3 separate regions of the Homo sapiens genome follow, and all the other regions are linked to region 1. A link means that fine-mapping ties the variant in region 1 to the expression of a gene that starts in the linked region. Tissue or cell type: whole blood. Region 1 holds a variant in brackets; each other region holds the start of a gene. Each region is shown on its reference strand, or each on the opposite one. Region 1 has its middle 2.1 kb from the start of ZNF316. Region 2 holds the start of PI3 (peptidase inhibitor 3). Region 3 holds the start of SEMG1 (semenogelin 1).

Region 1 (2,666 bases):
TTTAATTACTTCCTTCTTCAAATGAGTCTAGGGAAATCTATCAAGACTGAGTTCAGTAGTGAGTGACAAGAAGGTCCAACTAAACTACAGTTTATGACAACCAATTGTCCCCAGGTCAGAGGCATCCTCAGGTGGCCCAGGCCTGGTCTAGCATCTCCCTAAGGCCAAGGACACATAAGTCCCACCAGCTTCCTTCGTCTCCTCTCCGTCTCCTCAGCCCCTCAGCAGTGCTGTTGGAGCAAGAAGCAAAACTCACTCGTAGGGCCCGGTGAGGTGGCTCACGCCCTTTCCTTTCCTAAAAAGGAAAGGGAAAGGAAGAAAAGGGAAGGAAGAAAGGAAGGAAGGGAAAGAAAGAAGGAAAGAAAGGAAAGGAAAAGGAAAAGGAAAAGGAAAATTATCTGTGGACGAGGGAGAGGAAGAAATTGAGTCTTGGATTAGGTATCAGGTGAGGACAGGCCAAGAGGAGATCTGAGGAGATGCTGGGGTGATTCGGGGTCCCTGCCTGACAGGGTGGAGGGATCTAAGGCCGGGATGGAGCTGCTGACTCTATTATACACACTCCTCTTCTGGGGTCCCTTGCTGTCCACATTACAGGTGGTTTTGGGCAACGGGCAGCACTGGGAAGTGACAGGGTGCAGGAGGGCAGGGTTGGGGTACTCTCTCCTTGCCACACTGTCCCTCTATAATCACAGTGCCCACAGTGTCCCCATCTTTATATCTCCACCTCCCTCCAGGCTTGACAACATCCTGCCCTTTCCTGCTCCTGCAGGGCTAAGGGTGGCAAAGGCCTGGTGCCTTCACATTCCAGCTGCTTCCCTTTACCTGGTGTATTAGTCCATTTTCATGCTGCTGTAAAGAACTGCCCAAGACCGGGAAACTTATAAAAGGAAAGAGGTTTAACTCACAGTGGCTCTTGCCTGTAATCCCAGCACTTTGGGAGGCCGAGGCGGGCGGATCACGAGGTCAGGAGTTCGAGACCAGCCTGACCAACACGGTGAAACCCCATCTCAACTAAAAATACAAAAATTAGCCAGGCGTGGTAGTGCACACCTGTAATCCCAGCTACTTGGGAGGCTGAGGCAGGAGAATCACTTGAACCTGGGAGGTTGACGTTGCAGTGAGCAGAGATTGTGCCACTGCACTCCAGCTTGGGCAACAGAGTGCGAGACTCCATCTCAAGAAAAAAACAAAAACAAAACAAACCACCACCACCACCACCAACCACCACCAACCACCACCACCACCAAAAACTGACTCACAGTTCCGCATGACTGGGGAGGCCTCAGGAAATTTACAATCATGGTGGAAGGGGAAGCAAACACTTCCTTCTTCACATGATGGCAGGAAGGAGAAG[T/A]GTGGAGCAAAGGGGAAAAGCCCCTTACAAAACCATCAGATCTCATGAGAACTCACTAACATGAGAACAGCATGAGGCGAACTGCCCCCATGATTTAATTACCTCCCACCGGGTCCCTTCCACAACATGTGGGGATCATGAGAACTACAATTCAAGACGAGATTTCAGTGGGGACACAGCCAAACCACATCACCTGGTGACACTGCTTTTGGTCAATTGTTAATTGTCCTACAGTCAGAGCCCTTCCTGGGAGTGCCTGGGGGCAATTGCACCTTCCTACTGAACCTGACGGATCAGGTAGGGTGGGGAAGGGTCTAATCTAGGGATTAGGGGTTCTAAAAGATACCCACAGGAGAGTCAGGCAGTGTCATTCAGATGTGGGCCTGGAGGAAAGGGACAGGGAGTGGTGGGCACTGAGGACCATGGCCACGCTCAGTCCCACCCACAGAAGCTGGTTACTTCTCAGGCCCTACTGGCTGGTGCCCTGCAAACCAGGGGCCTTGTGTTGCCAGAACTTCTGATTTTTCAGATTTTATTTATTATTAGAGACAGGGTTTCAATCTGTTGCCCAGGCTGGAGTGGAGTGGTGCTATCATAGCTCACTGCAGCCTCAACCTCCTGGGCTCAAGCAATCCTCCCACCTTGTTTTCCCAAAGTGCTGGGATTACAGGTGTGACCCGCCTCGGCCCCCCAGAGTGCTTAATTTATAGGTGTGAGACCCCGCATTAGAACCTGATTTTTCAATTTTATTTTTTAAACAAGAATGGGACTCCTTATTTTAAAATGTTATTAACTTTAAGACATTTTAAGACACCAAGAGCCAAGCGACATCACTGTGAGGGTCTGATTCAAGGGGTTGGGGCTGCACCCCTCTGTGGGACTAAGGTTTGAGTCCTCCTCTATCTTATTATTATTTTGAGACAGAGTCTCACCTTGTCGCCCAGGCTGGCGTGCAGTGGTGTGATCTCGGCTCACTGCACCCTCTGCCTCCCGGCTTCAAACGATTCTCCTGCCTCAGCCTCCCAAGCAGCTGGGACTACAGGGGTGCGCTACCACGGCCGGCTAATTTTTGTATTTTTAGTAGAGATGGGGTTTCACCCACCATGTTAGCCAAGCTAGTCTCGAACTCCTGACCTCGTGATCCGCCCGCCAAGACCTCCCAAAGTGCTAGGATTACAGACACCGTGCCTGGCCGAGTCCTCCTCTATCTCTTGCCCAGTCAGGCCTGGGGTCCCCACAGAAAAGCACCAAGAACAGTGGTGCAGGCGGGCTGGGAGCTGGGGAAGGGGCCCAGGCCACACCATTCCAGGCG
Region 2 (2,666 bases), not on the chromosome of region 1:
CTTCCACAGTCTGACATTCGTTTATGTCTCCCTCAGTTTCAGGCTTGGTGGGCATGTGGTCAGAGTCTAAATCGACAAGGGGTGGGGATTTCACCAGCTGAATTAGTGTCCAATAATTAGTTTGTTACCTTCCCTGCCTTAACTCCACCTCAACTCAGTGACTTTCTTAACTCAGATTCTGTCCCTGACAATACCCAACTTCAGGATATTCATTTCTATTACTCAGAACTTTTGGTAACAATGACAGAATAGTAAGTCAGACTAGCTGAAGCAGAGGGCTAATTTATTGCCTCATAACCCAACCATGAGAAGGGTGTGTGAAGAACTGCTCTCAAGGTAAAGGAGGGAAACCTGGCTGTGTCATCTGAATCTTCTCTCACCATCACTTCTCTCCTTGTCTCAGTGTATTAGAGTCGTTTTTCTCAGACAATTGATCTCCACCCCCAGACTTAGATAACCACTTCTGGAATTCCCTGGTTCATATATATCACCTTTTCCAGAAGAAGGAACCCCCGTTTTCCCCTTTCATTACTCATTCAAATAAAATATGTTAATAGACCAGACCAAGTCTCACACACAACACACACACACACACTCACACACACACACACACACACACACCCCTACCTGTGGTCAGGGGTCAGGCTTTCATGATTAGCAGTCCCCATTAGACTCACAAGTTGATGGTTCAAAGAGACAACAATTCTTCACAAGAAACAGGGTGCTGTTCAAAGAAGTGGGGAGGCATGCTGGACACACACACTGTAGATGTCCAATGTATACATGATACATGTTTTCTACTACTTTCTGATTATTTTCTCCCTACCACTGTGATTTCAAGGGCATCATCCCTCTTCAGACCTAGAATTCCACCTTCCAATTACTTTCTTGATGCATCTGAAAGGCCGTCTCTGAAACAGCAAAGTGCAATAATTAGTCATTATGTATTCAAGGCAAATTTGTCTTACAGAGTTTTTTGCAGGACCAGGGAAGAAGGAAGGAAATGCCCAGTTTGATGCTGGGAGTGGTAAAATGATAAAGTAGATCTGGGTGGGGTTTGTAGCACCAGAGCATAATGGAGAAACACCTTGGTTTTGTAATCAAGACTGGATCTACCAGTGACTTGCTGAATAACCTTCGGTGATTCCTTTCTCTTCTTGGGTCTCACTGTATTTCAAAACATGAAGAATTTCATTGTAATGTTACCTAATAAGTGAGCCAGCACTTCTACTCTGTGAGAAAGTAGGAAAACTCTTGGGACAATCAGAGATGATGTGATGTAATGTCCATTAGTTCTTCCTGTGAATAATCCTGAGGGAAAGCCCCCAGGTCCCTCCCAGAATGGGGTGGATATTTCCCAATACAGCTAAGGAATTATCCCTTGTAAATACCACAGACCCGCCCCTGGAGCCAGGCCAAGCTGGACTGCATAAAGATTGGTATGGCCTTAGCTCTTAGCCAAACACCTTCCTGACACCATGAGGGCCAGCAGCTTCTTGATCGTGGTGGTGTTCCTCATCGCTGGGACGCTGGTTCTAGAGGCAGCTGTCACGGGAGGTGAGTGAACAGGTGACCTGCTGGGCTGGGTTGGACTAAGGGGAGACCCTCTGGGACACCCTGGGCCAGGACAGGGAGCACTTCTGAAGCAGTAGGCAGCACTGGAGCCCAGATTTCAGCTTTCTGTTCTTTGCCATCATATTCAGAAAAAATAGGACTTTGGCTGGTGGACTCCACGTGCTTTCCACCTCAGTGACTGAGATATCAGGACTGTTTGTGGAAGTAATGTTGGTATGTGGCCTTGGCCTCAGATGTCAATACCTGTGCAGAATGTGCAATAAAATAATGAACTCCAGGATTTTAAACCTTGGGTGTGGACACAGTCCCCCGTTTCTCTGCCCCATAAAAGCACTGGAGTAATCAGTACTCTAAAAGGAGGTTAAGAAACAACAAGCCTTCAGGAATCATGTTGTTTGAGGACCCCCATTTTATAAGGAGGGAACCAAAAATGTAGAAATGAGTGAGCAATTGCCAAGGTAATTCCCAGAGCCAGGATGGGGCTCAAGTCTCCTAGTATGTGGCTCAGGGTTCTTTCCTACTCCAATGCACTTCCTAACAAATGACAATGTGTCCTCTTCACTGCTGGGTGTCACCCCAGTCTGACCACTGCTCCTGAGAGACTTGGAGTGGAGGAAGGGGGAAGAAACAAATACTCAAGGGAACTCTGGTCCAGTAGACCACCCCAAAAAAGGAAGAGCCTTCCAAGAGTGTAGCTCCCAGAGGTGTACCTTCCCTACTCAGGCCATGGTTTGAGGATGCTGCAGTAAGCAGTGGATGGACCCAGACCCAGAGGAAAGACATGGCAGCTGAAGCAGAGGCTTACTGGGTATAAATGTGGGCTCGTTTCTTCTTTTAACAGTTCCTGTTAAAGGTCAAGACACTGTCAAAGGCCGTGTTCCATTCAATGGACAAGATCCCGTTAAAGGACAAGTTTCAGTTAAAGGTCAAGATAAAGTCAAAGCGCAAGAGCCAGTCAAAGGTCCAGTCTCCACTAAGCCTGGCTCCTGCCCCATTATCTTGATCCGGTGCGCCATGTTGAATCCCCCTAACCGCTGCTTGAAAGATACTGACTGCCCAGGAATCAAGAAGTGCTGTGAAGGCTCTTGCGG
Region 3 (2,666 bases), not on the chromosome of region 1:
CAATATCACCTTACTCTGTTGGGGTTTCTGCAATAAGGAACTACTTACTGCCTTTGAGGCAAACAGATAAATTTGGTAAGATCTCAGAGTGGCTCATAGAGAAACCATGCAGCTCACATGATTTATGTTTGATAGCATAGCACTTTTTTTCTGTGGTTGGCCTTTCTCTTTTCCCCTTCCATAGAGCATTGCCTACAGGAAGGTTAAGATTCTAAGACAGAATAATTGAAAATAAGTTTTCAAGCTATCCTTTCCCCAGCACTACCCTCCAAGGTGTTCTGAATGTACACAGGGACACTGTTGGGATGCTTTCTTCTTCTCCTGTGGTCTGCTCATAACGAAGTCTTTATGACTCAAAGTAAAGAAAGTTTCTTCAGACTTTTCAGGATGTCATCACAATTGGAAAAATCTATGCTTCTACCAAAGGTGGGAATTTTAGCTTCATGTCCACTCACAATACATTATTCAATTCATTGATGGTGGCAAATATTTCTCACAGCCTGTTTGGGGATTCAGCTGTTTACTACTGAAGTAGAAACTTCTCTTAATTAAAAAGAAAATTCTGCTGTTTAGGTAGATTTCATGAAAAGAACCCAATCTAGAAACCAGCATTTTTACTTTTTTTCCAACAGTTGTTCCTATCACCATGAAAGCATATTAAAATTCTTTCATCCTTTGAAAACACATCTGGAACTTACCTCACCCTCCAGATACAGCCTCAGCTCTCACTCCACCATGAATTCAGACTTCCTGAGAAGGTTGCAGCTGGTCTCCATCCTTCAACTGACAACCCAATGCAATTGTATTCATCTCTCATTAAAGTTACTAGCAACAACTAAGAAAAACTTTGGATACATGTCAGTCTTTATTGTGTTGAACTTGACAGACATATTTGACATTGGAGTGCCCCATTTACTTGTTTAAAATTTCTTTCTTTGGATTCCATAACGTTTCATTATCTTCTATATCATTGGACTTCTATGATTGCTCATTCTTAGGTAAAATAGAACGTGTCTCAAGATCATTTTTAAAACAAAAGGAAGTATGGAGTTCTATCTAAAATAGAGTATTTAAATTATTGCATCATGAAGGGAAACTCACATTTAGAATATAAAGGCATTCTCAGAAACCAATTGCTTTTGTAGCCTGAAGCCAGTCTCTTTCCTACTTTTGTCTATAATTCTGTAAAATTAAAGTGATCTGGCATGATGATCTAAAAGGACTGATAAAAATTTGCTGGGGCTGCCAGAAGAAAGAAAATGCCTTTGACATTATGTTGCTGGGGACATTGACTTTGTCCCACACTCAGCAGGGGTGAGGAAGTTGGCATTTACTGATAAGCTAAGAAAAGTCAGTGCCTTTTGTAATTTAAGCTCCACCCATGGCACACTCACTCAAGGAAGATATAAATGACAAGGTCGGCTCAGCTCTCAGACAAGGTTTTCCAAGCAAGATGAAGCCCAACATCATCTTTGTACTTTCCCTGCTCCTCATCTTGGAGAAGCAAGCAGCTGTGATGGGACAAAAAGGTGAGTGGAGAGGGTAAGCCTTGGGGAAAGCTGCTCAGACAGCTAATAATCTAAGATTATTTGGGGTGCAAACAGTAACCTGTTTAGGCACAGATTCTTCTCTTTGAAGAGAATTGATTTTCTCCACCCAAAGCTTCAGCTTTTCTAGAAATATCAATAATTTGTTGGGGGAAAAGTGGGGGGTAAGAGTTGTAAGGGAGCTTTGGAGATAATGAATGCATACCTTCTTATTATCAATTACCAGGTGGATCAAAAGGCCGATTACCAAGTGAATTTTCCCAATTTCCACACGGACAAAAGGGCCAGCACTATTCTGGACAAAAAGGCAAGCAACAAACTGAATCCAAAGGCAGTTTTTCTATTCAATACACATATCATGTAGATGCCAATGATCATGACCAGTCCCGAAAAAGTCAGCAATATGATTTGAATGCCCTACATAAGACGACAAAATCACAACGACATCTAGGTGGAAGTCAACAACTGCTCCATAATAAACAAGAAGGCAGAGACCATGATAAATCAAAAGGTCATTTTCACAGGGTAGTTATACACCATAAAGGAGGCAAAGCTCATCGTGGGACACAAAATCCTTCTCAAGATCAGGGGAATAGCCCATCTGGAAAGGGAATATCCAGTCAATATTCAAACACAGAAGAAAGGCTGTGGGTTCATGGACTAAGTAAAGAACAAACTTCCGTCTCTGGTGCACAAAAAGGTAGAAAACAAGGCGGATCCCAAAGCAGTTATGTTCTCCAAACTGAAGAGCTAGTAGCTAACAAACAACAACGTGAGACTAAAAATTCTCATCAAAATAAAGGGCATTACCAAAATGTGGTTGAAGTGAGAGAGGAACATTCAAGTAAAGTACAAACCTCACTCTGTCCTGCGCACCAAGACAAACTCCAACATGGATCCAAAGACATTTTTTCTACCCAAGATGAGCTCCTAGTATATAACAAGAATCAACACCAGACAAAAAATCTCAATCAAGATCAACAGCATGGCCGAAAGGCAAATAAAATATCATACCAATCTTCAAGTACAGAAGAAAGACGACTCCACTATGGAGAAAATGGTGTGCAGAAAGATGTATCCCAAAGCAGTATTTATAGCCAAACTGAAGAGAAAGCACAG

The links. PIP is the estimated chance that this variant, and not a neighbour inherited with it, causes the effect.
Region 2: it holds the start of PI3, and the variant in region 1 is fine-mapped to the expression of PI3 in whole blood (TOPMed, PIP above 0.99).
Region 3: it holds the start of SEMG1, and the variant in region 1 is fine-mapped to the expression of SEMG1 in whole blood (TOPMed, PIP above 0.99).

What each region holds. Positions count from the first base shown.
Region 1 is chr7:6,633,873-6,636,538 of GRCh38, forward strand. No RefSeq gene overlaps it. Among named protein-coding and RNA genes, the nearest start is that of ZNF316, 2.1 kb to the right of the region's middle. The variant T/A (reference allele first, on the strand shown) is at 1,355.
Region 2 is chr20:45,173,445-45,176,110 of GRCh38, forward strand. It overlaps PI3 (peptidase inhibitor 3), which reads left to right and starts at 1,458. Exons shown (of 3, transcript NM_002638.4): 1 at 1,458-1,557; 2 at 2,417-2,666. The coding sequence starts at 1,479. RefSeq lists an enhancer at 1,048-2,247.
Region 3 is chr20:45,205,601-45,208,266 of GRCh38, forward strand. It overlaps SEMG1 (semenogelin 1), which reads left to right and starts at 1,433. Exons shown (of 3, transcript NM_003007.5): 1 at 1,433-1,529; 2 at 1,774-2,666. The coding sequence starts at 1,454.